Regions from separate parts of the Homo sapiens genome. Here all the other regions are reported to be linked to region 3. The links are microRNA targets in miRTarBase. Many come from high-throughput screens and were not tested one by one. Region 3 holds a microRNA gene; each other region holds the end of a gene's coding sequence.

Region 1 (4,066 bases), not on the chromosome of region 3:
ATGGCGTGAACCCGGCAGGCGGAGCTTGCAGTGAGCGGAGATTGTGCCACTGCACTCCAGGCTGGGCAACAAAGAAAAAAAAAAAAAGACTTGCTCTATCTTGTTTCCCTGCTGTATCCCTATCACCCAGTTCAGTACTTCAGGCACACAGTAAGTACTCATAAGTGTTTACTGAATGAATAATAGGATTCCTTCCCAACCATCCTGCACACCCCCAACTGGGGGAGCCAGTGCCAGCCCTTTGGGTCACCTAAGGAGGGACATTCTTGAATCTAGTTTTGTCCCTGCCAATCCGATTCTACTCACAGAAGTAGGTGGCACTTTAAAGGTCTGGTCCCAGGAAATCCCAGGAACCTCCCACCCAGGAGCAGGGCCCTCTGCTGCAAAGGAGCGAGGGCAAGCTAGGAAGCATATGAAGACAAGTAGTTTCAACATGGGAACAGGCCCTAGGGCACATTGGGCCCATGACTCTTCATCCTCCTGGTTTCTGTTTAAGGTCTCAGCCAATGGGGCCTGTCTTCTCTGGCCTTCAGCGAAGACAGTATCTTGGAGCTAGATGTGACCTTAAAGACCTAGAACAGCCCTCTCTTTCGGAGGTCCAGACTGAAGAGTGAGGGCACAGGGAACAAGATGTTACTCTGGGCAAAGAACATCCTGTCCTCACATGGCTCAGCCGAGGACATGAGCACCCTGGCCAACTATACTAGAATACTATGATTGACTCTTAAGAGCATCACTGAAGATGAAGACCAGAGGCCCTCTCTAACAGGGTGGGTGAAGAAGAGTCTCAAATGCCAGGATGAGGGGCTGGGGATTTGATTGGGGGGACAGAGAGGAATCAGGGAAGAGCACAGTGAAGGCCAGACTTCAGAGACCTGCTTCAAGGCTAGACTCTGTCTTGAGACCTTAGGCAGGTTGCTTCTCCTGGACTGATCCCCCTGCACGATAAGCCTCAGTTTATAGATAGGAAAACTGAGGCCCTCTAGAGAGGACAAGGAGAGTCATGTTGTGAGGTAGGGCAGACTGAGGCAAGAGTAACCAGACTGGCTACTCTGGCTCTGATTGGCTGGGATCCTTTGGCAGGCTGACCTCTTTCTGGCCTACTCCGGCCTACTCCATTGCCTTTGCCCCTGCTGCTTTCCCCTCCCCTCCTCTTCACCGCATACTCATTGGGGTTGGCTCCAGATATTGCATGTAGATGTCTCTTTTCTCTGGGATCCTGCACTCTCAGCTCTGGCCTCGAGGTATTGTGTTACTTTGGGCAAGACATTCCCCTTTCTGGGCCTCAGTCCTCCCTGCCCACCTCTGACAGCACATCAAAGCCTCCATCCTGTCCCCCCCAAAACATTTATCAGAATCATTGGAGAGACATGTCAAGGATCTGGTATTCCAACCATCTCACAGAGGAGGCCCAGAGAGGGAAGGGGCCTTGCCAAAGGTCTCACACCAACCTGGCAGTCATCTTGACTCCTCTGAATCCCTCTCCTTCCATATCTAAAGCCTGTGGAGTCCAACATCTTAAAAGCTCTCATAGAATAGACAAATTGCTCTTGCAGAAGAATTCCAATTAATTTATGTACATACTTCCCTCTCAAGGAAATGGAGCATAACTCCTCATTCCCTAAGCACGGGCTGCGCTTACTTGGCTTCCTTCCAAAGAGTACAGCATGGAAAAAGAGAAAGAGGAGTAGCTTTACAGTGGAGAAACCTGACAGACACTACCTCAGCCAGGTGATCAAAGTTAACATCAACAGTGATAAATCACATTGATAGTACATGCCCTTGATATGATCTAGTGAGAATGACATTTGTCTTCTGTGGTCTTCCTTCCCCAAACTCATATCCTCAGTTTAATCATGAGAGAAAACATCAGACAAATCCTGATTAAGGGACATTCTATAAAATATCTGACCAGTACTCCTCAAATGACTCCAGGTCATCAAAAACAAGGAAAGCCTGAGAGAGTGTCATAGCCAAGAGGAGCTTAAGGACACAAGATGACTAAATGTAGTGTGCTATTCTGGATGGAATCCTGGAACAGAAAAAGGACATTAAGTTAAAACTAAGGAAACTGGAATAAAGTATGGACCTTAGTTAATAATAATGTACTGATATTGGTTCATTAATTGTGACGAATGTATCACAGAAATGTAAACTGTTAATAAGGAAAACTGGCTGTGGGACATACGGGACTTCTCTGTTATCTTCACAATAATTCTGTAAATTTAAAACTGTTCTGAAATTAAGTTTATTTTAAAAACCTCTCATATCCGCCCCCATCTTGCCAATCCCACCTGAGGTCTAGCGTCTATTTCCTTACTGCTGTCCTTCCTTCCAGTCAGTTCTCCTGGCAGCCAGCAGAGGGCATTCTCTAAAACGCAAATCTAACCATATCTGAAGCCTTCCAGCAAAATAAAGGCGTTGGATGGAAAGTTCGGGAGATATGTTATAAAAGACCGACTCGGATGTCTGAATAAAAGTTATTGTGATCCAGAACAAATCTGGGAAATATTCCTGGCGCCCACCGAGATAAAATTTATGTATCTAAATTTAATATAACTCAGCCTTTCCAAGGTCTCCCGGATAAAGCCTGTTTTTCAGATGTCCAACTCCCTACGTTTCCACCCCTTCGCACAGTTACATAGTTAATTCCCCTTTGTTTTTCCTTTATCTCTACGGATACTTCTCTGCTTGAGCTATCTTTTCTGCCTTCTCCCCCAAGCCCAGCTCTAGGGACTCTGCACCCCTTCCCAAAGGCAAGAGAGCGCTCCTGCATAATTGGGTTGTGATATCCGGACCGAAGTCGTGTTTTATTTTTACTAAATGCGAATGAGGAAAATGAATTCCTTTGGCTCCCCACGCCCCGCTCACTCTAGGCCCGAGGAAAGGTTTGACGCACTATAAATTAAAAGATGAATCACTGATAAATGGATGTTCTAGGACGCAGGATGTCTCTACACGCATGCGCCAGAGGGGAAGGCGTGGGAAGCCCTTCGCTACCTGGCTGGGTCCGCTGCGGGCGCCAGGAGAAGGAGGGGCTTCCTCAGCCTCGCACTGCCATTGGCCAGGATGATCCGCATTGGTCTGACGCAACGCCTCTGCGGCCTGGCGGAGCTCGCCCCCCACCCGCCAAACCCCCGCAACTAGCATGTTGCAGGATACTGCGTAGGCCAGGCGGCTACGTGTGGGCCTGGGGGAAACTGACCGCTGGGGCCGGGGCACCAGGCTAAACAAAAGACTCGAAGCGGCACTCTGAACTTGCTCAGAATTTTATTGGGATTAACAGGGTCCACGGGGAGAGGCGAGCCTTCTGGGGGACGGGGACAAGAATACCGCAAAGAATACCGCAATGGCGAAGCGGCCTTGCATAGACACCGAGGCGGGCTAGCGGCGCGGCGGGAAGAGGAGAGGGATGGAGAAAGAACTTGGGAGAGGAAGGTGGCAGCAGCGCCTCCATGGGCACTGCGCGGCTGTGACGAAGGCCACAGCGGCCCTCCCCGCTTCGGGGGTCAGGGTGTCCACTCCACACAGCACAGGGAGAGGGGCTGGGGCCACAACTGACTGGGAGAAGTGGGTAGAGGGGCCCTGACCAAGGCATCACAATAAATACAGTTAGCAGCACACAGAAGCCTGCGGGGGCGGAGGGCCAAAAGAAGGGGACTAGCCCCCTTTCCCTCCCCCCAAAATAAGAACTCTGCAATGACTAAACCATAAAAATAAACTTTAAACCCGTGTACGAAGTCGGTCACCCCCCAGAAGTGCAATGTGGGGCCGCGTGGCCCTAGCTGAGGAGGAGGGCAAATGGGATAGTGGGTGGGGGATACAGAGAGGTGATCCCCAAAAGGGGAAAACCCTTATCCGGTTTTCCCCCTCTTCCCCGGATTGGCCCAACCGTTTGGGACCTGAAGCACATCCTCTAGGTCAGAGTCGTCCGAATCTTCCCCTTCTTCCCAGACATCTTCACTTCCTTCCTCCTCATAGTTTCCTTCCTCATAGATGTCCTCATCTTGCTGGATGCCTGCATAGGGGAGAAGCAAGGAAGGGGAAATGGAGGAAGGCAGTTAGA
Region 2 (4,066 bases), not on the chromosome of region 3:
CCGCGTGGAGGGCCCGGGAGGTGCGCGTTGCCGGCTCTGATGGCGTCTCTGTCCCCGCAGGTGCTGGGCCTGTACAAGGGCCTGGGCTCGCCGCTCATGGGGCTCACCTTCATCAACGCGCTGGTGTTCGGGGTGCAGGGCAACACCCTCCGGGCCCTGGGCCACGACTCGCCCCTCAACCAGTTCCTGGCAGGTGCGGCGGCGGGCGCCATCCAGTGCGTCATCTGCTGCCCCATGGAGCTGGCCAAGACGCGGCTGCAGCTGCAGGACGCGGGCCCAGCGCGCACCTACAAGGGCTCGCTGGACTGCCTCGCGCAGATCTACGGGCACGAGGGTCTGCGTGGCGTCAACCGGGGCATGGTGTCCACGTTGCTGCGTGAGACGCCCAGCTTCGGCGTCTACTTCCTCACCTATGACGCTCTCACGCGGGCGCTGGGCTGCGAGCCGGGCGACCGCCTGCTGGTGCCCAAGCTGCTGTTGGCGGGCGGTACGTCAGGCATCGTGTCCTGGCTCTCTACCTATCCTGTGGACGTGGTCAAGTCGCGGCTGCAGGCGGACGGACTGCGGGGCGCCCCGCGCTACCGCGGCATCCTGGACTGCGTGCACCAGAGCTACCGCGCCGAGGGCTGGCGCGTCTTCACACGGGGGCTGGCGTCCACGCTGCTGCGCGCCTTCCCCGTCAACGCTGCCACCTTCGCCACCGTCACGGTGGTGCTCACCTACGCGCGCGGCGAGGAGGCCGGGCCCGAGGGCGAGGCTGTGCCCGCCGCCCCTGCGGGGCCTGCCCTGGCGCAGCCCTCCAGCCTGTGACGCTCACCCCGCCCTCCTTCCCCAGGGCTCCTTCTCAGAAACCTGGGACATAAATTGGCCCCTGAGTCGATTGCCCTGCTTCCTGCTGGGATGCTGCGAGCTGTGGAGTCTATCAGACGTGGGCTGAATTTTGCTGATCAGCTGGGTAGTTTTGGCCGAGAACTGCACTTGCCTCAGTGTTCTCATCTATGAAATAAGGACCCTCATGCCCACACTGTAGAGTCACGAAGCTCAGAGATTATTCCCAGCAGCAGCCAGCACCTGGCCTGGCTGAGGCCATTGCACCGTTATCCTGGAAACTGAGGCAGACACTCCAGCCCCTTTCTGGGATCCTGGCCACGTCATTGTGCTCCTGCCCTGCAGGCTGGCTCCCGGGGGTCTCTGATGGCCAACCAAGGGGCCACCCAGGGACCTCTAACTCCACACATCCTCCACCCGGGGGGGTGGTGGGCCACCCCTCTGGTCTGTGTTAGGGACAGAGGAAAACTTGGTGTGCCTCCTGGTGTCACAGAACTGGATCCTCTGCATACCCCAGCTTCTCCACATGCCACTGCTAGGGGTACCCCAGCTGCTGCCACTCCTGCTGGAGGGTGAACTGGGGACCCTGCACCCTCCGGGAAGCCATGGAGTCTGCTGGAGGCACCATATCAGCCTGCGGGACTAGGGTGGGGAGCAAACAGGCCAGCGGTGGAGGTCTGGACAGTTCAAGTGTGATGCAGCTGTGGCAAGGAGAAATCCTTCCGCCTCTGGGCCTCAGGCTGCCTGTCCATAAAATGGGGACATGGCCAGCTGACGGACAACTGAGTCTCCGGCCCACCTACCACCGCCAGCCAGGATCCCCCAAAGTGTGCAGAGGGCTCAGCAGAGAACAGTATGGGACCCCCTCACCAGGCCTGGAACACCTCCAGCCACAAAGAAGCCAAAGGTCAGTCCCTCTGCTCCCCAGCAAACGGTGCCTCCCAGGCATTCTCAGTGCCAGGGCTTCATCCCTGTGAAGGCACAGGGCCTGCTAGTGGGCACAGGGGTGGCTAGTTGGGGCCTGGGGCAGAGGAGGGCTGCACCAGGCGTCCTGGGGAATGTGCTCAGTGAAGACGACACTGGGCTTTGCACAGCCTGGTGTCGCTGTACAGAAACTGTCAAGGGAATAAAGTGTTCTTTGTTTTTTAAGTGGCGAGGCTGCCTTTGCATATGGTGGAGGAAAGGGCTTCATTCAGCACCCTTGCCCTGGAGTCGAAGGGGCCAGCTCAGGGGTGCGTGTGCCCTTGGACCCTGACAGCAGCCTTGGCCATGTGACCTGGGCAGTTGCGGATACATCTGAGAGCCTGTTTTCTCATCTGCAAGGCAAGCTAATGAAGGGCGTGAACACGCTGGTGCAGCCTGGCCATTCAGCAGATGCCCCTCTGCTATCATCATCCCAGCAATGAGAGAGAGAGGCCTGTGGTGAGGGGCACTGGCGGGCGGGGCAGCAGGGGCAGGGTGTGTCCCAAAAACAGCTTCCTGGAAGAGGGGAGGTCTGAGTGGAGCTGACCATTTCAGCCACCCGGGCAACTTGGGCACAACTGTACTTAACCCAAACTAGGAGGTCAGAGAGGGCTTCCTGGAAGAGGGCATCCTGGAGCTTTGCCAAAGGTGTGGTGTGGGGGTCTCACTGCCCACCTCACCTGCAGTTCTGTTCAGCCTCCTGGAGTCAGCCCTTGGCATCCTGAGCCTCTGCAGCCACCAGCCCTGGAGGCTTTCCCTCCCAAGTGCTGAGCCAAGAAGCTCTGCCCACTGACAAGGGGGAGTCGGGGAGGGGCCCCAGTTCCTGTGCCTGTTTAACCCTAGTGCTAGCCTGGGAAGTTGGGCTTTACAGGGAGGCAGGAGGCGGGGAGGAAGCTGGCTGTTGACCCCTGGGGTCTCCTGGCCTCTCTCGCTTCTCTTTACTCTGAAATAAACCAGGGGAAGCTCCCAGGGATGGGGGAAACACCCTGGCCATGGGCACAGAGAGGGGCCCCTTCCCTAGCTCCTCCATGTCCAGCTTTGGCAGCCCCTTTGCCTCTCTAGGCCTGGGTGGCTGAATCTCTCAGGGCAGCTTGAGTGTGGCCTGTGGCTGTGGTCCCCATCACCCTGGATCTCTCCACACATCTGCACTCTCTAGAAAGGCCCCAACGTGACCCTTGTCAGGAACTAATTTGAGCCCTGCTCACCCTGGGGCTTCTCCACGAACCCTGCGGCTGCCTGCCCTCTGGGGACAGCACACAGACAGGCCAGCCCTTCAGAAGTGAGGAGTGGTGCGGCAAGGAGCAAGGTGAAGGGGCGGGGGGCTTCTAGCTCCCTCCCACTTCCCAGTTCAGCGGCCTCACATGACCAACACATCTGCCAGGCAGGGAGTAGAGTTGTTGTTTTTAATGAATTTATTTTACATTTTCTTTTCTCCCTGATTTGAACTTTTTTTTTTTTTTTTTTTTGAGTCTTGCTCTGTTGCCCAGGCTGGAGTGCAGTGGTGCTCTTTCAGCTCACTGCAACCTCTACCTCCCGGGTTCAAGTGATTCTTCTGCCTCAGCCTCCAAGTAACTGGGATTACAGGCGTGCACCACCACACCTGGCAAATGTTTCTATTTTTATTAGAGACAGGGTTTCACCATCTTGACCAGGCTGGTCTCAAACTCCTGACCTCAAGTGATCCACCCGCCTCAGCCTCCCAAAGTGCTGGGATTACAGGTGTGAGCCACTGCGCCCGGCCTCTGATTTCAATTGATTTGGAATAAGTGATATATGAAGTGCTAAAAACTAAAAATACTACCAGAATCCAGGCTTGTGCAGTGAAGAGGAAAACCTCCTTCCACCTCCCAGGGGCCAGCCTCTCCTCCTGAGTCGAGGACAGTCTCCAGTTCCCAGAGGGCATCCAACACATCTTGGGCAAGTGCCAGCATGGAGCAGCGGAGGGACATCTGCACCCCCTACAAAGTGTGGCCGAGGTCCTGACTGTTCTGTTCTTTGCTGTCTTCCCTTGACAGTGATCCTGGAGATTGCATCCTTCTCCTAGGGCTGCCGTAACAAAACACCACACACTGTGGCTAAACAATAGCCAAGTGTCCTCTGAGAGTTCTGAAGGCCACACTCCAGCTGCAGGCAGGGTTGGTTCCTTCTGGGGGCTCTGAGGGACGAACTGTTCCCTGCTTCTTCCAAGCTTCTGGGGGCAGCTGGCAATCCTTGGCTCCCTAGGCTCACAAGAGCATCGCTCCGATCGCTGCCACCATCTCTTGCCGCCTTCTCC
Region 3 (4,066 bases):
CAGGCGGATCACGAGGTCAGGAGATTGAGACCATCCTGGCTAACATGGTGAAACCCCGTCTCTACTAAAAATACAAAAAATTCGCCAGGCGTGGTGGCAGGCGCCTGTAGTCTCAGCTTCTCGGGAGGCTAAGACAGGAGAATGGCATGAACCCAGGAGGCGGAGCTTGCAGTGAGCCTAGATGGCACCACTGCACTCCAGCCTGGGCGACAGAGCAAGACTCCATCTCAAAAAAAAAAAAAAAAAAAACCTGTCCTTTCTCCCCAGCGATTTTCTTAATGGTGTCTGGGAACTCATCTGCTGCCTCAAAGCCGCTTCTCCTGTTATCTTGACATTTTTAAAACCAAACGTCTTTCTGAAACTCAAACCATCCTTTGCTGGCACTAAATTCTTCAGCTTAAGATCCTTCACTTTAAGTTGTCTTAAAATGACTTTACTCTTTCTGAAAAGAGACTGTCTATCTGGTATACTACCAACTAGTGTAATAACTGGGACAGTGCCTGGCACATAGTAGATATTCAATAAAATATTTGTTAAATAATTTACAGGCACCTTTTATATTTGAAAAAAATTATGTTTAAGTTTTTATCTGGAAAATGTATGTGATGAGGGGGACCCTGAAGGACAATTCCTTAATATAATTGATAAATACAAATATATGTTATATATTTCTCAAGTGAATGCAAACGGATTTATCTTGGTTACATGTTAAAAATTGTGCAGGTCAGGATGGGCGCAGTGGCTCACCCCTGTAATCTCAGCACTTTGGGAGGCCAAGGCAGGTGGATCACCTGAGGTCAGGAGTTCAAGACCAGCCTGACTAACATGGTGAAACCCTGTCCGTCTCAAAAAATAAAAAAAAAGTGCAGGTCAGGCATGGTGGCTCTTGCCTGTAATTTTAGGACTTTGGGAGGCCAAGGCAGGAGGATTGCTTGAGGCCAGGAGTTCAAGACATCCTAGGCAACATAGCAAGACCTTGTCTCTACAATAAAATAAAAATGTAAAGAGCTGTGCATGGTGGTGTGTGCACTTGTAGTCCCAGCTACTTGGGAGGCTAAGGTGGACTGATCACTTAAGCCCAGGAGGTCAAGGCTGCAGTGAGCTACGATCATGGCACTGTACCCCATCCTGGGCAACAGAGTACCCTGAGATGAGAAGTAAAACAAATCCTGTAGCTCTTGATCTTCCTATTCCCTACCTATTTCCGGTCCATTTACCAGGTAAGGAAGTATACTCCTAAAGTTTCCACTTACTCAGATGTAGAAATGAATTTCTTTTTCTCTAAAAGATACGGAAACTACTCTCTTAAAAAAAGAAAAAATAAAAATTTAAAAAACGTTGTGCAGAAACTTGAGACAATAAGGAGCAGAGTTATATGTGAAATCCAGGTTGCTTAGATAGGAGATTAGCTACATATATTTTTTATTAATGGGAAAAATACTCAGAAAAATTTCATATGGAATGTGACCCTGTGCTTTGTATAAGTAATTAGATATTAGAATGGAAGAGCAAATTTTAGTGCTTTGGTTGTGTACATCACCTTACTATTCTGTAATAGATGTAACTTTAGCATAGTCATTTTAATGATGAGAACATGGGGCAAAAAAGATTGTCCAGGCTTGAATGGTGGCACCACTAGAGTGGTGGCAATTTTCTGATATCTTTTAGAGAAAAGGAATTTCATTTCTACATCTGAGAAAGTGGAAACTAGGAGTTTCTTCCTTACCTGGTAAATGGGCCAGAAACAGGGAATAGGAAGATTAAGAGCTATGGGATTTGTTTTATTTCTCATCTCAGGGTACCAAATTAACTCATCATCCCAAGGATTCATATTTTAGAATTACTTAAGGATTCATATTTTAGAATTACTGTATCAAATGATATCCAACTCTAAGAGAACTTCTAGTATGAAGATCAATGTTGAAAGTAAAATATTTAGATTATTAATAACAAATTATTTAAGGGAGAATTAGTTTGTTTAGAGCTTTTTTTCTTAACTATATTTGGAATTAAAATGTCTTAATTAGATATTTAATAAAATTAACATTTAGAATTAAAGTATTTTTCTTTAAAAGTATATTTGCATTTTGCTAGCTTAAGTTTATTGAAACTGAGCTCTTGTATGTCATTTCATGTTTTTCCCTTGATGTGAAGTCTTACCTATTTGATGAAGATGTCTTTTGAAAGGTGTACTGCAAGGAACAAAATGTTTGTAAATTCTCCTTTTACCAAGGTAAAGATCAAATTTTATAAATTTACTTGTTTGTTTATACAAGGAAAAATAACTTCATATATTGAATATATTCAAAAGTTTAAGCATTTAGTTGTATTGCCCTGTTAAGTTGGCATAGCAAATAAATGCTTTTCTTTTCCTCATTTTATTCTTTGTGTTTCCTAACCTATAGCACTGTGCTGGGCACAGAATGGACTTCAGTTAAGTTTTTGATGTAGAAATGTTTTATTATTCTACTTAAAATCTCCTTAAAAATAATTATGCATATTACATCAATGTTATAATGTTTAAACATAGATTTTTTTACATGCATTCTTTTTTTCCTGAAAGAAAATATTTTTTATATTCTTTAGGCGCGAATGTGTGTTTAAAAAAAATAAAACCTTGGAGTAAAGTAGCAGCACATAATGGTTTGTGGATTTTGAAAAGGTGCAGGCCATATTGTGCTGCCTCAAAAATACAAGGATCTGATCTTCTGAAGAAAATATATTTCTTTTTATTCATAGCTCTTATGATAGCAATGTCAGCAGTGCCTTAGCAGCACGTAAATATTGGCGTTAAGATTCTAAAATTATCTCCAGTATTAACTGTGCTGCTGAAGTAAGGTTGACCATACTCTACAGTTGTGTTTTAATGTATATTAATGTTACTAATGTGTTTTCAGTTTTATTGATAGTCTTTTCAGTATTATTGATAATCTTGTTATTTTTAGTATGATTCTGTAAAAATGAATTAATACTAATTTTTCAGATGTATCATCTCTTAAAATACTGTAATTGCAATTTAATAATTGTATTGAATGCCATCAAGTTTTTTTAAAAAGCTTATGCAGCATTAGAGGAATTTATTTTAATGCACATTTATATTCAACATAGACATTAATTCAGATTTTTACTTGGGATAAAACAAATTCTAGTTTTCCCTTTGTTTTGAAATTACTTTTAAAATATGTCTTTACAGATAAATATAAAATATATTAAGCATTTTGAACAGAGCTTAGAAGACAATATTTAGTACTGTTTCTGAATATTTCTTTATATCTGAAGGGGAAAAGCCATCAAAATATGTGAATTAAATACCTAAAATTCTGGTTGTCAAAACGTCACACTTAACCATAACTTTAAAGGTAGAAAAACCCTTACAAGTGACCAACCCACTCATTGGATAGCTAAGGAAACACAAAACTCAAATAATTTGCTACACATCACAGATTGGGGTCTTAGTCTTATGTCTTCTAACTTTATAATGGTATACTATTTTTTTCATGTTTTTATTAAAATGTTTTCTTAAATCCTTAGCCAAAGATTTTTGTTTGATAAGTCAAAAATAAGGTCTTGTTTACTTTGTTTACTTTTTTGTATTCAAGATTTAACTCAGAGTAAGACCAAATTATCATTGTAGTTTTATTGATATAAAATGTCAACATAATTTAATTTTTTTTTTTACTTTTTTGTATTTTTAAAATTTTTTATTAAAAATAAAAGTAGACAGCCAGGTGCGGTGGCTCACGCACTTTGGGAAGCCGAGGCAGGCGGATCACCAGGTCAGGAGATCAAGACCATCCTGGCTAACACGGTGAAACCCCATCTCTATTAAAAATACAAAAAAAATAGCCAGGCGTGGTGGCGGGCGCCTGTAGTCCCAGCTACTCGGGAGGCTGAGGCAGGAGAATGGCATGAACCTGGGAGGCGGAGCTTCCAGTGAGCTGAGATCGCACCACTGCACTCCAGCCTGGGTGACAGAGGGAGACTCTGTCTCAACAAAAAAAAAAAAAGAAAAGAAAAGTAGAGCTGGGCACAGTGGCTCAAGCCTGTAATCCCAGCACTTTGGGAG
Region 4 (4,066 bases), not on the chromosome of region 3:
TGAATATCACATTTACCTTTTTTTTTTTTAATGAGATGGAGTCTCACTGTTGCCCAGGCTGGAGTGCAGTGGCGCGATCTCGGCTCACTGCAACCTCTGCCTCCTGGGTTCAAGCAACTCTCGTACCTCAGCCTCCCTAGTAGCTGGGATTATAGAAGCCTACCACTATGCCCGGCTTTTTTTTTCTTTCTTTTTTTGGTATGTTTATTAGAGACGGGGTTTCGCCATGTTGGCCAGGGTGGTCTCGTACTCCTGACCTCAAGTGATCCACTTGCCTCGGTCTCCAAAGTGTTGGGATTACAGGCGTGAGCCACCATGCCTGGCCACATTTGCCTTCTGATGACTCTGAAATGGTTCTAAAAATAAAATTCACCCTGCAACAATGATTTGTTGTGCCTGAACGTATTTAAAAATGTTAAGGTAGGGCATGGTGGCTCATACCTGTAATCCTAGCACTTTGGGAGGCCCAGATGGGCAGATCACCTGGTCAGGAGTTCAAAACCAGCCTGGCCAAGATGGCAAAACCCCATCTCTACTAAAGATACAAAAATCAGCCGGGCACAGTAGCGGGTGCCTGTAATCCCAGCTACTCAGGAGGATGATGCAGGACAACTGCTTGAACCTGGGAGGTGGAGGCTGCAGTGAGCCCAGATTGCACCACTGCACTCCAGCCTGGGTGACAAAGGGAGATTCTATCTCAAAAATAAATAAATAAAGTAATTAATTAATTAAAAAACAAGGCCAGGCACGTTTAGTTTCTTAACAAAAGTTAAGAAACTAAAATATAAAAATACCTTTTGGTTAACTTTTAAAACTATCTCTGTGGAGAAGCCTTCCTAATTATGACATGAAACCTAGAAGTCACAAAAAGATAAATTTTTGGACACGTTCTATCATAATGGGATAATTTCCTTAATAAATAAAGATCTACAATTAACAAAAAAATGATGACAATCTTATAGAAAATCGGCAAGGGATATGAACAGATGTTTCACGGAAATACAACTTAGATATACCCGATGAATTAGATCCATGCATATTAAAACTACCAGTTATCATTTTTTTAAATCTGCCAGAATGGCAAAGATTAAACTGGCTGTAGCTGTTAGGACATGGGGGAGGCCAGCACCGATGCTTGTCCAGTAGGATTGAAGGCAACGTGGCAACGTCTGCTTATGCCCTGAAACTCACTGCCCTGGGATCCTGCCATCCAAACACGGGGACTGCAGGACTGAGGCAGCTCAGTGGGCAGCAATGGGTGCTAAGTGATGTGGGGTACGCGGGCTGGGGTGGCATGTGGGGCGTGTGAGACCTGTCTGAGCTTGTCAATGCACACATCCTGAGGGAACAGAATTTTCAAGCAACCCTAGTTTGCTTCTTTTACGATGTGCACGTGTAGCTATTTTTGACAAATGAGAGCCTACTTCATTATCACAAAAGACACTCAGAGAGAAATGACTTGCATACTTTGCCGGGCCCAGAAATATTCCATGACTTATTTGGTGCACTTTTGGAAAACTTCCAGTTGTTTGCCTTTTTCAGGCATGAGGTCACCGACCTTCTTTAAATGGACCAAATTGATTTTGGCTTTACCTTCATGCGTCTGATTCTCAGCCTCCGGAGTTCTTTAAATATTTAAGCTGGTGGATATTATGGAAGTAAAGGCGCTGGTGGGGACCCAGCCCAGGCGGGAGGGAGGAAACTGTTCCTCTTTTTGTCTTTTGTCCTTTCCTGCTCTGTGCAGGCCTCCACCACGTGGCTCCATCAGCATTCGCTGCAGCCCTGGGAGGCCCTAGGGCCAGATCCTGTCCTCCTGTGACAGTTGGTTGGGGGGGGCTTCAGGCACAAGCACTCGGGATGTGGGCTGGTCTGCAGTTTCCCTGGCATGCGACACCTTTGGGACGCTTCCAGACCAAAACCAGATCCTTGCTGAACAGAATGACATGGGGACTTGCAGCTCACTCGAGGTTATGTGCCCAGGCCTCACCTGGCCGTGCTGTGGGCTGCTGGCCTGGCACAGGAGGAGCTGTGCTCAACAGACGCTGGGAGGGCCGGGGCCACCAGCCAGACCCTTCACCAGCCCCAGCCCCCAGGGGCCCTCCACTGCTGTGTCCTCGAGAGGGATGTCGACAGGACTGGAAATACGCCACCCCCTTTGGCAGCTTTTCTAAGGTTTAGTAAACAGGGATCTCAGGTGCCAGGTGGGCAAATGCTACTGTCGCTCAACGAGAGGAATCCCAGAGAAGGAGAAGCCCCTGTCAACCTTTTATTGGGAGTGGAACACATGAGGTTCAGCTCGTGCCGGGCACTGTACATTCACTGAAGCAGCTCAAGGGGCTCAGCCCCGACACTGACGCCACACTGAGCAGGATGCACGGCCCGGGGCTCACACTGTCCATGGAGGAGGTGGGGTCAGCCCGAGGTGGGCGGATGGTGGCCCGAGACACCGAGAGCTTGGTTCTGGGACTGTGGCTCAGCTGACCCGTGGCACAGCTGCACCTAAGACATGGCCCTGGCTAGGCGGGAACAGCTCACAGTAGCGATACATTCACAGGACACAGTTGGTGTCCAGAAAAGGGGGCTCAGAACACAGTTTCTACACAAGCACTTGGCACCCACACGACAGAGACGTCACTCAAGCAGCACAGCCACAAATAGTTTACAGCAGCTCATGCCCGGCATCCGCCCATGCTGGGAGACTCCCTGAAAGGTGGGCACCTGCCGTCTATGAGGAGGTGTCTCCCTCCATCATTAACCCCAAACCACACAATGTGTGAGGAGAGCAGGCCTCTGGGTGAACTCACACATTCATACCCAAGGAAGAGGCAAACACACTCAAGTCCAGAGTTCCCAGTGGTGCCGCCCAGACCTACTGTCCCGGGGGTGTTATGGCTGTCCCTCGGCTTCCCCAGAGCAGCCAGGACAGCCTGCACCGCCTCCCAGACTCTTGCAGGAAGGGGAGCTCTGCCCTGGGGAGGAAACTGACAGGCTGGGAGACAAGACTCCCATCGCAGGGACATGCACAGCAGCAGCCACAGCCCCGCGGACGGGGCATGGGGATGGGACAGGCAGGGAGCCACACTGCCCCCTCAGTGTGTGCCTGTGGTTCTGTCCTGGTCCTGCCCACTTGGAGCCCAGGCAGACAGGTGGCATTGAGCAGGGCCCAGGTCCAGACAGCCCTCTGGCCAGATGTGACTGGAAGAGGCTGATGCCAGGGCAGCACCAGGCCTTCTGCAAGTCCCAGAGCCAGTGTGCAGAAAGTGCCAGCACGGCCTGTGCTGTGGCTCCTCAGGATGAAGTCACGTCCAGGACAGGAGGGTTTATGCAGACACACAGACACTGCTGACGGGGACAGGGATGGCTCGGCCACTATGAGGCTGGACTCTTCTGTCTGTTCAGGGAGTCGATGTAATGAAAAATGGCCCCCAGAGCCCAGCTGGTCTCAACATTGTCAATTTTCCGAGTGAGCTTGAAAAGACAGAGAGGGAGAGGGGACCATCACACAGACAGGAAAGCCTTGTGCATCAGGAGGCTGTGGCTCCTTGGAAGCCAGGGATGGGCTGGGGGACATGACCCCAGCAACTGGAGAAGTGGTTCTAGGCCCCTCACTCCATAAAGGGGCTGGGGCGTGACCTGAGGGCACCCTTACCTTCAGCACTTTGCTCCTGGGAAAGCCGAACTCCTGGAGTAGCAGGCTGACGTAGGTGAGGTCCATGCATGAGAAGGGGCTGCTCTGCGGCTGTGTCTCCAGGGTCCGACACACTGGGGATGAGACACGTCCCTTCACGCTCCAGGTGACTCCCACCTGGGGGCGGAGGGGCAAGTGCAGACCCCAATTCCACCCACTACAGGCACCCGCTGGCTCCGCACTCCGGATTCACAGACAAGGCCGCAGCTGAGCGCAGAAGGCACCCAGTGCACAGCACAGGCAGGTGGGCGGCAACCCCGGCTGCCACTGGGTCTGGGCTCCAAGGGGATTTGCACGCCTGGTGTTAGGGTCATGGGCCAATGTCTCCCAAGCCACATTTCTACATCTAAGACCCTGGACACCTCTCCCAGGTGTCAA
Region 5 (4,054 bases), not on the chromosome of region 3:
CTTCTCCTTGGATCCAATTAAGGGACCCACAAACCAACAGATCCACCATCCTACAAAAGGTTTAGCCCCCTCAGAAGCTGTGTGACCTCGGGCTAGTTACCTCTCCTCTCTGAGCCTGCTTTTATTTATCTACAAAATGTGAATTGTAATAGTACCCATAATGATACTTCTAGGTTGTTTGACGTGCATTAGTGAGCGATGACCCGTGGGAAGCTTCTAGCTTCTAGTCAATTAAGCCCTGGTCCCCGTGCTCTGCCTAAATCCAGCTCCCTACCCCACCCAGTCCTCCCTCCCCACCGCCGACGGGGAGCGCTCGAATTCCCTCCTGCTGGGCGCGAGGGAGGGGGGGCGTCCCGTGCCCGCTGCCAGGCCCTAGTTCTGGGGGCCGAGCGATCCCAAGGCCTTGCCGAGCTTCCCCGGGGATCAGGTTTCTGCTGACGCGGTGCCAGGCACGTCTGCTTCCAGGAACCGGCAGCCGCTTTTAGCCGCGGGCCGCACATGAAAGGGCTGCAGTCGGAAACGTGACGTTGTGTCAACAGGCGGGGCAGGTCAGCGCTGGGTGAGACCATCCCGGCAGGCCCGGCGGATCACGCCCTGTCTGAAGGCGGCCAGATGCCCAGCCTCCGCTCCCCTGCCTCCTGCCACCTCTCCTTGGCCCCGGAGCCAGCGCTTCGCCCCCTGACACTCACACACCCCGCTTTTTAAACAGAAGTCCTCTTTGTCCGCAGTGGGCATTAGGCTGGGGTGCGCGCCCCTCCCCCGCACCTCCCTCTGAGCGCATTTGGATGCCGCTAGAACTGGGCTAGAAGAGAGGTTAAGGGCGAGCTGGAAGCAAAAAATGAAGTGGAGGGACAGCTGCAACTTGAGGCGCTGTTTGACAGGGGCAGGTTCCCATAGCGGGATTCTGGGTTGACTGTGTGTGGAACCCTCAAATCTTTTTTTTTAGTTCAGGTTGCTCCAACCACTTCCTCCTTTCCCCAAAGCTACTCCTCCTGCAGTGGCCTGGGAAAAAGAGAGGGTTATGCAAAAAGAGTTTGGTCTTGATTTTTCAACCCCCGGCTATATCACCAGGGTAAGTTTGATTTGTTGGGTTTTTTCCAAAAAAGTCTAGCTAGAGAGGTCTGGCAACTCATGGAGCAATTGAGGTGTTTCACAGGCATGAGACCTGGAAGCCCAGGCGTTGGGCTGGGAGAAAGAGTGGCTTACAGAATTTGCCATCTGCCTGCTCTGGGACTTGTGAGAAGGGCTCGGAATTCTTATTTTATCTAGTCAAAAGCAGGCGTGGAGAGGGAGGTGATAGACCACCAGCTATTGATGCCAGGCTTCCACCTCCTGGTCCCGGCTCCTTGCACAACAGCCTGTGGCCTGGGGACAGTTACGTGCATTCCATATGCATCCAGCACAAGCAGACAATGCTCACTTTCACCTGCTGGCCCATCAGGAGACAGGGAAGGTGACATGTGAAGCAAACAGTCTTCATGGTCAGGTGGAGCCTCTGCCTGGCTAAGAAATCCCTAGGGGCAGCTTCCCTGCTGTACTCCAGACAACCAGGGAGTCCTGGCAGACTGGGATGCTTTGGGAGCCGGAGCGTGTTGAGTCAGGCGCTGGCCATCAGGAAACATCAGGACACCTCTGACAGGGAGTATCCCACAGGAATGTTGCAAATCAAGGCAAAGGAGAGAGGCAAAAATACACGACAGGGTCATTTCCCACCTTTCCCATGGAATTTTTTTTTTTTTTTTTTAAATAAGAGCACTTGTCGAAGGAACACCCAATATGCATTCACGCACAAACATACCGGAGAGGAAGTCCAGGAAGGATGTAGAAAATAATTATGGAATGTTGCCTCCAGCAGGAATAAGACAGGATATGGCAAATCCATTAGACCTTGCTAGATTTGAAAAAGCTAGACTGCTTTGGCAAAGAGGTGCTATCCTAGCATCAATTAGTATTGCATAATAATCCAGTAAATCTTTTCTCAATGTGCCTCTCCCTCCAGCAGGCTCCCCAGACACTGCTGCCCACGGTGTCATACCTTGGTTTTCTGTCAAGTTCCAAGGACCACGATGAAAGCAGGCAGGGGAAAATATGCTTTTTACTTAACTCTGGAAAGAGGTAGAGGATGATCATGAACCCCTGGCAAGGGTTAAACAAAAATTGAACCAATATTTACCTGCCAGGTTGACTAAGCTTATTCTGATTGAATACAAAGCACATGAAAAGCTGAATGAAATTACACTGAGATTAACTGGTTTGCTTCAGCCAAGAAAGAAGGACATGGGAGTCAGCCATATCACACCAAGTGAGCTATTTTAAAAAACTCAGGAGACCATCTTTCTCTTCCACAGGAAAAGAATTATTTTATTAAGTATTTTAAAACAACTACTTAACATTTACTCATAGATAAAAATATTTACAATTTTACACCTTCAGGAAGGCTCCAAAATATAAACACTGTACCTCTCCCTAGAGAAAAAAAAAATTATTCTTCTCTTCAAAAACAGGAATACATTCATTTTTTCTCACTGTGTGAATCAAGTAATTATACAAATAAACATCTGAAACATTTTCCTTTTTAATATATTTATATAATATATATTTATAACAGCTTTACAAATAAAGGCAACGACTTAATACCAAAATAAAAACAGGAAAAGAAAAAGTTAAAACACGATCAGCAATCAGGCATAGTGCATTTTGAAAAGCTGCTGCGGAGCTGGCTGGACACATCGGGAAAACAAGTACTCTGGACCAAAAATAAAACTTCTTTGAAGGAGACGGAATCCTTTTTAGCAATAAGGACACTCCATATGCCGTTGGGCAAGAGGAATTAGCCTACAGAAAGGATCTGGCGGTGCCAAGGCTTGGTTAGGCCTTTGAGAAGCTAAGCTTGGTTAAAAGGAGTTTTAGGATGGAATTGAAAACTGAGTCTAGTTCTGTTTGAAGGGGGCAGCTTTTTACTCAGCTTTGTGCACTTTGGGGTGCTCGCTCGGGGTGTCCGCATTTCTCAGACCTTGGTTTGGTTCCCTGCACAGTAAGTACTAATGGTTAGGCCTAGAAACAGGTGCCAGAAGCCCAGGGAACTCCTCCCTCCCTCCGGGGCAGCTCAGCTTGTACAAGGGGCCCATTTTCAGTTCCTTAGTAAGCTAATCACTACGAAAGCCTGAGTAGGGAACTACATTCTCTTTATTCTTCCGAGGCAGGGGTGGGGAGCAGACCTGCGGAAACCTCCCCAAACCACTACCGTGCTATGCCAGTGCCTGCTACCTCCCCATGTTAGCAGAAAGCTCGGTCTGACTGCTCTCTCTCCCCGACGTCTGGTGAGTCACGTCGACAATAAAGGCAAAAGGGTGGGGTCCTAACAGCTGGTTGGGAGCTGAGCCCTGGAAAGCCCTCTTTTGAAAGTACCTTCTGATCAAAGCCACAGACCCAGCTCCCAAACTGAAGAGTGACTCACAGACCAAGACTTTGAAGCTTTTGAAAATCCAGCTGATGTGTATCGAAGGGGGCTATTCTCTGGGTGGGGAAAAGCCCAGACGTCTGCTACAATCCCCCCCAAGTCTCCTGATGTCAAGCAATCCTTCGTGACTTCCCTATGCCAAAAGGAGCTTTAAAGTCCTATACCAACACGCAGGCACACATGTGCACGCACACGCACATACACACACACACACACACACACACACCCTGAATCTGCTCTCCATGCCTCAGATTATCTCAGTATACACAATGCAACAATCTTGCAGCATTCACAAAAACTTTTTTGTTGCTTTTTAGGAAGTAGCGAGGAAGGAAAGCAAAGCAGCAGGATCCCCTAGAGAGTTTAGTCTTTGGTTTCTAAGTTTAAAGGGGGGATTGGCTTCAGAGCTTGGAGCAAGACAGAAGAGTCGACGGACGGATGAGCTGGCAAGGGAGAAGGGAGTCTCTGGGGCATGAGCAAGGGAGCCGAGATCTTGTCTGGGTTCATGAAGCTAGAGAGGGCTGCGGCAGAGGCGTTGAGGCCTGGGTATAGCACTGGCACTGAGGTGGGATACCAGCACTTCTCCAGCATGGG
Region 6 (4,066 bases), not on the chromosome of region 3:
CACATTCCCACCTTTTAGTCTAGCATCACAACACTTCCCCTGGGATTTGTACTTATTTATATATTATCTAAGTCCTAGGAAGTTGGTAACAAAAATTTTAAGTCAAAAGGATAATGAATTAAACACTCCCTAAAATCTATTCTAAAACATGCGTGTGAAATATGAAGAGATCAAGCACTTTGTAAATGTGAGATTTTACAGTCACGTGTTCCTTTAAACTTATACTAGTATCTTCACTAGTATCTGCACAATTTTCTGTAATTAGGCTTTTCACTAAAACTTAATAGAAGAGGAAAACAACAAAGAAAAAAACCTTATTTGTAAACTGTACAGTCTTAGAAAAGTGGTACTATTTATTTTTAAAACCAACTTTCTCTGCTAAAGAAATCACACTGTGTGGTCATCAGAACAGTTTAAGTCACTTTGGCAATACAGAGATTTATTTACCCTTATTTTGAATAACAATAATGATGATGATAAACTATTGTCACGGTCATATAATTTTTCAGAACTTACGCCACCATGGAGGCAAATGTGTACAGAATATTTCTAATAAACCTAAATTTAATCACAGTTAAAATTTCTCAAAAGTATTTTCAAGTGCTCAAGAATATTAAAGTTTGGGGGGAAATACCTAAGTCATAAATAAGCAAGTATTCCCTCCAAGATTCACTAATTGGGATAAAAGTCTCAGGGTAAGCCCACAAGAATGGTCTGCAATAAAGAAAAATCAGGTCTGTGTAGAGTAATTTCTGCCATCTTTAGCAGAAAAGCCAAAAACATTCTGAGCCAAATAAAAGCAAAGATCTTTTGATTCAGCGCCTTTTGTTGTGTTAGTTTTAATTTCTAACTTCTCAACATGTTATAGCTCAGAAATTCCCATATGCTTACTATCTGTAATAAGGAACTATAACGTTAAAGAAAAAATTCAGAGACGTGATCATTTTCCATCATAGGTCTGTCTCTCTTTGGTAAGAAACAGATCAAGACTTACTTATTTTCTCTCACCTACAGAAGAGAGGGGAGTTAAATGTCATTAACCTAGTAAACAATCCCTGTGTATAAACATTAAGTTGGAGGGTAAAGAGCCTAAGTCATGCCCTTTATAAGAACTGTGGAAAACAACTCTGGCACGTAGCTGTGGTAGAGGACAGTAAGTGTCCACAGATAGAACATGATCTTTCCTGCAACTGGAAGACCATGCTTATGAACATTCTAGTCAACCTATAGAAATTTTGCTCTGTAACTTGAGTGTCCTTCAGACAAGAAACATGAATAATAAGCTATTATAAAAATATGGTAGAATATCTTCCCCCTTATAAGTCACCAATTTCTGATCCCATTAAACTTTCATAGAATCCATGGGAGTATTAAGTAGGTTTACTCTAGGTAATTTGTCATGAAGTAAAACTGGAAATAACCTATCTAATAATACCATTTGCAATTCAAGAAAAAAAAATCCAATACAATCTAATATGTACATTAACAAACTTCACAGAATATATATTCTATCAGGCCTAAGAAATCCTCACCCACCCAACCAAAAGAAAGTCAGTTTCACCCACTGTAAGATAAACCATGACACTTGTATCTGGATCCAGAAAAAAAGAACTGCTAAACTCCAATGTAGTAGGAAAAATATTACAAATAAGCACCCAAAACTGACCTAAAATTTTCTACTCAATCCCGCAGGATGTCTTTTTTTGAAGAGAAATAAGCATCCCTTGCAACTTGACTGGAAAGATTATTACCTGACCAATTATTTCTAAGCCTATACTAGAAACCAGTGCAAGATGGAATGCCAAAATCACCACCAACTCGACACGACCGTTATTTTTGCAAAGAAAGGTAGTTATATAAAATTCCATTCTCCCAGGCAATGAGCAGGGGAGAAAAACATGTTACTTTTTAAATGGCTACATTTGTAGGTTTTTGAGTATCAGCACCAAATGTTCACTTTTAATTATTCTGAACAAATTTTTAGGAATTAATGTTTCCTAACAAAATGGACTAACAAAACAGTGAATAAGGAAATAACTTTCAAGCAATATTTGCATGCTGATAAGAACCATTAAGTAAAACAGTGATTGGCTCATTTCCAAAGCTACTGTAGGTGTGCACCGTTTGGAAATAGTGTATCTCACTGCTCAGCTAATATAGGAACTCTCCAAACCATGGGTGCACATCTTATTTTGTGACTAGGCAAGATTAAGTAAAACAAGTTGAAAAGATTTTTTTAAAAAGCAAGCTAAATCAAAATAATCCATTGTTAGAATAGTTTTCTACTTTCTCTTTTAGGGAGGAAAAAAAAAACCCATCAAACCAGTGTATGAAGTGCCTACATAAAAAACTGAAATCAAGATTCACAAATAATAGTGTCAGTTCAATTCTACATAACCCTTTATTATATTTATAGCAGTATTATGACCAACATTACACAAGTTTTATTTCTTCCTCATACCGTAGCAAATTTATTTTCATAATAGAGTTCAACTCTGCAAATGGTTTAAATCAACTTTTTGCACCTTGAATTTACAAACCATTAGATACGAAGTTTCCTGAAAAACATTTTATTTTTAAATTTTACTTAAAGCTATAACTAAACCCAAGTCTCTTGGGAGTGGGGGGGGACCAACTAAGCTGTTTAAACACAAACTTATAAAAAATATTCTGATGCCAGTGTTTGAAAGATAGCCTACAGAAGATTATAAAAGGTCAACGATCATACAAGAGAATTCTATGGCCAAACCTTGTTAGAAAATTTGTTTTACAAATAAACTTCTTTCATAATAGAAGAGGAAATGAAAAGATATTTAATTTCCCCCTAAAAGTAAGTAGTTGCTCAGAACATGGGTTGGATGTATGGAAATCATATTGCTTCTGTGAAAAAAATGTTTTAGCCAGGCATTCCACTAACAAAACGCCATGCCATATCTACCTAGTCTTTGATATCTGGGTATTAGTATTACCCAAGAGAAACTTATCAAAAGCAAATGGTTAGCAAACCACCAAATAGGAGTCTCAGGTCCCTTAATTTGGATAGTCATCTTAGTAAATATAAAACTTAAGCTACTTGAACACTGGGGCTTATAAAGTGCATCAGGTATAAGAAGCACAACAGTAGTGTGAAACTCAGTAGGACTTTAAGGGACTTAATATCACCGGTGGGGCAAAAAAACAACATTATAGTTTTCTGTTCAGATTTTATTTGAAATCTAATTCAAATTGTCAAAGCTACAAAAGGGGGGAAGACATCTGTATTATTTTTGCTAAGTCACAACATCCTAAAACAAAATACTACTACTGTCAGCAGATCCATTATACACATTTCTGATGAAATCCATTAGAACAATAAAAATTTCATCTTGAGAAATAGCCACAATGAAAGTAATTTACACAATATAAAACAATGACAGATCTACAGATGCAGTTGCTCATGAGTTTACACATGCATACACAAACAAACAAAAAACCCCAGGAATGCTCTTTCATTTGATTTTTTGTTTTTTTAAAAAACAGACCGTTCAGGCACAAAACAAATCGCATTTCCAATAAGTGACAGCATCTTAAAAATTTACGTCAGTGTTTGTTTTTCTTTGACTTTTTATGAGACCTGTGTGGAGATCTGGACTGGGATCTGGACTTCTTTCCTGATTTTTTAGGAGATCTAGACCGTGATCGCCTAGACCTTTTAGGTGTCCTTGAACCAGATGGTGATCTAAGGAAACAAACAAAAAAATCCCAATTGATAAAGTACTCATGTGATCAAAACTGTTTATCCTTAAACGATCGAAAATGATCTTTAACAGGGCACAGTGAAAAATCACTGCAATAAGACTATGAACTTCTAAAATTTAAACTCTATTGTACACACACACACACAGATTATTTTGTACTTACTATGCACTGCATCAATGATCATCAGTAGAGCGCTTGTTTATAAAGACAGATTTCTGTGCCTTATCACTGCTCTACTGAATCAAAATCTCTGGAGGATGGAACTAAGAATTTGCATTTTTAACAAGCTCCATAAGTGACTGATAACCCCCAAATTTGAACCTTTAAT
Region 7 (4,066 bases), not on the chromosome of region 3:
GAGTTGCAGTGTCGCCCAGGCTGGAGTGCAGTGACGTCATCTTGGCTCACTGCAACTTCCGCCTCCAGAGTTAAGGGATTCGCCTGCCTCAGCCTCCCGAGTAGCTGGGATTACAGGCGTGCATCATCACACCTGGCTTTTTTTTTTTTTTTTTTTTTAAATAGAGACGAGGTTTACCATGTTGGCCAGACTCCCGACCTCATGTGTTGTGATTACAGGCGTGAGCCACTGCACCGTCTTTTTTTGTAATTTCAATAAAGACGAGGTTTCACCATGTTGGCCAGGATGGTCTCAAACTCTTGGCCTCAAGTGATCGACCCACCTTGGGCTCCCAAAGTGCTGGGATTACGGGCGTGAGCCACCGTGCCTGACTGTGATCATTTACTTAAATATTTGACTTTAGGTAATGAAGAATTAAAGTGGATGAAAATATTGCAATGCTATCAGGATTTATTGAGAATTGCTAAAGCTGAGTGGCTAGACTCTTAGTTCTAAAGAAACCTAATAGTGACTTGGTATATTTTTAACTGAAATGTAAGCTTGAAAATAGCACATTAAAGTCAAATTATGTGGCTTAAGACATCCTCTCAACAGCAACACAAATTCTAGTTCCTGTCTTTCCATTCTCTTTCCTGTTTGTCTGAAAACCTCAAATACCTCTTGTTCTAATTCTACGCTATTCCTTTAATTCCTTTCTCTTTGATACATTTTGCTTAATTTTATATTCTAATGTGCTTTTCCCTCTCAGACACGATAACCAACTATTCAAGATGCCATCTAATGCACTATGCCATTAAGTATTGTGGTCAGTGATTTTAAGTGTAATAAATTATCTTCAGGTTGAAAAGAGCATATGCAAAAGAAATGGATCACTACATCTTAACTAGAGGCATGGATCAAATCAACTTATGGTTGGTTTGAAAATGCTTTAAGACATATCAGGATTGACTTAAAACTAGGCTGGGCAGAGATGTAACACTATGTGGATAGAAGTGTTACAAACACACTAGCCATATTTTAATTAAAATAGAGTTTATTAGCTTTTAATATAAACATGAGAAATAAAAACCACATAAATTGTAGCATTCTTTTCAAAATAAAACTGCAATCAATACTTGAATCTCCAAACTCTGAATTCCATAAACAATATTTGTTTTTTTGAGGTGGTAGATTGTAATATTTGTATACCATTATTTATCATTTATGTCTCTGTCCTTTAAAAATGATGGAAACTGCAGCACAATATGATGTGAAGCATTGCTATAATAGAGGAAGTACTCCTGTCCCAGAAATGCTTTGTTTATAAGCAAGATTCCTAGGATTAGATTTGAGAAAGTAGGAGAAACAGATTTCACATAGTTGAGAACACTAACCTCTTCTTAGTATTTCAAATTTAGGTGACATTATCGGTCTCCTAAAATTATTTGCTCCTTGCCTTTTAAAGCCTGAAGAGTTCCTAAGGGTTATGTAAGTATTTCTTAAATAGCAGGACTTAATGGGACACCTACAGCTTGGTAGCATGTAGGATGATAAAACAGCTGTTCATATCACCTTCTATAATTAGGGTCCAATTCCTTTTATTACATGTTAATTAACACTGCTCTTCAAAATCTTCCTTTAAAGAAACTGCGGTAATCAAAGCATATAGAGCACAGCTCTGCGGGTAACTACTTTTAAAAAGAGGGCATTTTATGGAGATACAAGGTATTCCAAAAGTTCAGTGTAATTTTAAGCTTTGATACTTGTAGAAATATAAATGCTACAAACCTTTACAAAACCTTGTCTGAACATTTTTCTTCTGCTTTTTTCTTTGAGACAGGGTCTGGATGTCGCCCAGGTTGGAGAGCAGTGACATGATCATGGCCCACTGCAGCCTTGACCTCCTGGGCTCTACTGATCCTCCCACCTTAGCCTCCAGAGTGGCTGGGACTACAGACACATGCCACCATATCCAACTATTTTTATTATTTTTTTTTACAGGCAGGGTCTCACTATGTTGCCTAGACTGGTCTTGAACTCCTGCACTCAAGCAATCCTTCCACCTCAGCCTCCCAGGGTACTGAGATTACAGGCATGAATCACTATGCCCAGCCCATTTCTTTTGCATTTAATTTTGCATTTTTCTAAGAGATGGGGTCTTGATAACGTTGTCCAGGTTGGAGTGTAGTAGCTATTCCTATAGGCACCATCATGGTACACTGCAGCCTCCAATACTTGACCTCAAGCAATCCTCCAGCCTCAGCCTCCCAAGTAGCTGGGACTATAGGCGTGCACCACCACACCCAGCTTCATTTTGCAAATTTTGAATATAAAGCTTTTAATTTTTTGTTTCAGTCAATGTCTGCTATCAAGAGTGACCGAAACAAAAAATTAAAAGCTTAATATTCAGGAGACAGGTGCCAGTTGCACTTGTAGTCCCAGCTACTTGTGTGGCTGAGGCTAGAGGATGGCTTGAGACCAGGAAGTTCTAGGCTGCAGTGAGTGCACAATGATTGCACCTGTGAAAAGCCACTGCACTCCAGCCTGGACAACGCAGTAAGACCCCCATCTCTTTAAAAACAAACAAAACAAAACAAAAAACTTTCAAATCATGTTTTTTAAAGGTTTATAGCATTTATACTCATGCTGCAGTGCCTTGGAGGGCCCAAACTATATTCAAGCTTAAAACTGCTTCACTTTTTCTCATCGTCACTGAACCACCATGTTGGTTGGCATTATGAAAATATCTTTTAATACATTTATTTAGCAAGAGAAAAATTATCAGAAAATGAGAAGCACCATTTATAGTTCACAAGAAATGCAACATGGACTCCAATAGAAGTAGATATCAATAACTGATACTTCCTCTGTTTATGACCCCAAACATGCTAAAATGCTAAAGTAATGCTTGCAAAGAATATGAATGACAAATGTTATCCAGCAGCTTTTTGGTTTAAAATGATTGCCAATGACTAGCAGCTTCAATGGTAACAGTAGGGAGGAAGAACCCTTCAGTACCTAACAACGCTGCTGTCTGCTCCTAAGTGGCTTTAGTTAGAGTCCCATGTTTTAATGGTAATACTGCATTGATTTTAAAGGCATATGCAGCAAAATGCGGGGGGAGGGAGAGAAACTGGAAGAAACATAAAAGTTATATGGTTAGTGTCTTTAAAGTCTAAAAATTTAAACTATTGTTTAAAAAACCTTACATAGTTCACAGCTATCGGCCCACACAGTAAGCAAATATCTGTGTGTAGGATGGGAGCCTTCACTTTGGAGTGGTTTTTGTAACTCTGTTTACATTAAAAAGGACAGAAGAGTGTTTTGTTGCATTGACAAGGTCCCATTCTTTCCTGTGGAGTATAATCCTTGTTGTCCATGAGTCTCTTGAATTTGAGATCTTTCCTTTTGATGAAAACACTAATTTTGCTGGTTTTTGAGCAGGAAAGGTGGTATTTCTCCAGTCTTTGTAGATGAAGGTCCCATGACGTTATAACCCCTCATTTCTCCTTTTAAGAGAGGATGGCTTTAGAGCGCTGAATACCAATGAAGTTATCAGCACTGAAAGACCTTCTCATAGCGGCTCTACACAAGTCTTTGTCTTCACACAATCTAGAAATAGCCTAGGAAAGTCAATCAAATAGAAAACAGGTACAATTTTAAAAAGGGTTCCCGCCTTTGAAAGAGCACCATTGTGAAAGCCACACATGTGGACTCCTTTAGATAGTTCACAGTTACAGCTACTTTGGCTGAGTTTTACACTGCCAGGTTGTGGGGACACTACTTCCTGACAGTTCACCAAGGTAATATCCTTTAAGGGCTATGGTTAGATTCCCAGAGAACAAAGGGGAATTTATTATATTATTAAAAAACTGGATTCCCAAAGATATCAAAGGTATTGTGATAGGGCTCCTAACAGCAATAGCATCTGTTATCTGTTAACTTATTCCTTAAATATAACAAACGTACACTTGTGCAAAAAAATGTTTATTCAGCTATTCAAATTCTACCCAATCCTTATTAGCTATTATATACTCAAAGCACATTTTAATGAGGCAGGTGTGTGCTGGACTATACTGGAACATAT

What was found. The annotated mature microRNA hsa-miR-15a-5p reads UAGCAGCACAUAAUGGUUUGUG and lies in region 3 at 2,629-2,650, shown strand. An mRNA with a match to its seed (bases 2 to 7 or 8) in the 3' UTR can be bound and repressed. Matches are read on the target gene's strand: a 7mer-m8 pairs with bases 2 to 8, a 7mer-A1 pairs with bases 2 to 7 and ends in A, and an 8mer does both.
Region 1: the mRNA of TSPYL2 is a reported target of hsa-miR-15a-5p. Seed matches in the 3' UTR shown: 8mer at 3,614-3,621.
Region 2: the mRNA of SLC25A29 is a reported target of hsa-miR-15a-5p. The part of its 3' UTR that is shown has no 7-base or 8-base seed match.
Region 4: the mRNA of ENTPD6 is a reported target of hsa-miR-15a-5p. Seed matches in the 3' UTR shown: 7mer-m8 at 3,025-3,031 and 7mer-m8 at 2,639-2,645.
Region 5: the mRNA of BHLHE40 is a reported target of hsa-miR-15a-5p. Seed matches in the 3' UTR shown: 7mer-m8 at 3,801-3,807.
Region 6: the mRNA of U2SURP is a reported target of hsa-miR-15a-5p. The part of its 3' UTR that is shown has no 7-base or 8-base seed match.
Region 7: the mRNA of CCNYL1 is a reported target of hsa-miR-15a-5p. Seed matches in the 3' UTR shown: 7mer-A1 at 2,953-2,959.

The regions. Positions count from the first base shown.
Region 1 is chrX:53,087,728-53,091,793 of GRCh38, reverse strand. TSPYL2 (TSPY like 2) reads right to left here. Exons shown (of 7, transcript NM_022117.4): 7 at 3,254-4,018. The coding sequence ends at 3,855. Among named protein-coding and RNA genes, the nearest start is that of KANTR, 4.4 kb to the left of the region's middle.
Region 2 is chr14:100,289,027-100,293,092 of GRCh38, reverse strand. It overlaps SLC25A29 (solute carrier family 25 member 29), which reads left to right. Exons shown (of 4, transcript NM_001039355.3): 4 at 61-1,977. The coding sequence ends at 810. Among named protein-coding and RNA genes, the nearest start is that of MIR6764, 14 kb to the right of the region's middle.
Region 3 is chr13:50,047,751-50,051,816 of GRCh38, reverse strand. MIR15A (microRNA 15a) reads left to right here and starts at 2,616; the gene lies at 2,616-2,698. DLEU2 (deleted in lymphocytic leukemia 2) reads left to right here. Exons shown (of 14, transcript NR_152566.1): 6 at 2,155-2,233. It overlaps MIR16-1 (microRNA 16-1), which reads left to right and starts at 2,756; the gene lies at 2,756-2,844.
Region 4 is chr20:25,224,901-25,228,966 of GRCh38, reverse strand. ENTPD6 (ectonucleoside triphosphate diphosphohydrolase 6) reads right to left here. Exons shown (of 15, transcript NM_001247.5): 14 at 3,650-3,762; 15 at 892-3,468. The coding sequence ends at 3,370. Among named protein-coding and RNA genes, the nearest start is that of PYGB, 21 kb to the left of the region's middle.
Region 5 is chr3:4,983,462-4,987,515 of GRCh38, reverse strand. BHLHE40 (basic helix-loop-helix family member e40) reads right to left here. Exons shown (of 5, transcript NM_003670.3): 5 at 2,193-4,054. The coding sequence ends at 3,824. Among named protein-coding and RNA genes, the nearest start is that of BHLHE40-AS1, 5.5 kb to the right of the region's middle. RefSeq lists enhancers at 33-930, 931-1,828, 2,817-2,876, 2,887-2,946, 3,377-3,556 and 2 more.
Region 6 is chr3:143,055,964-143,060,029 of GRCh38, reverse strand. U2SURP (U2 snRNP associated SURP domain containing) reads right to left here. Exons shown (of 28, transcript NM_001080415.2): 28 at 1-3,718. The coding sequence ends at 3,580. Among named protein-coding and RNA genes, the nearest start is that of U2SURP, 56 kb to the right of the region's middle.
Region 7 is chr2:207,753,124-207,757,189 of GRCh38, reverse strand. It overlaps CCNYL1 (cyclin Y like 1), which reads right to left. Exons shown (of 10, transcript NM_001330218.2): 10 at 1,016-3,602. The coding sequence ends at 3,492. MIR4775 (microRNA 4775) reads right to left here and starts at 2,383; the gene lies at 2,309-2,383.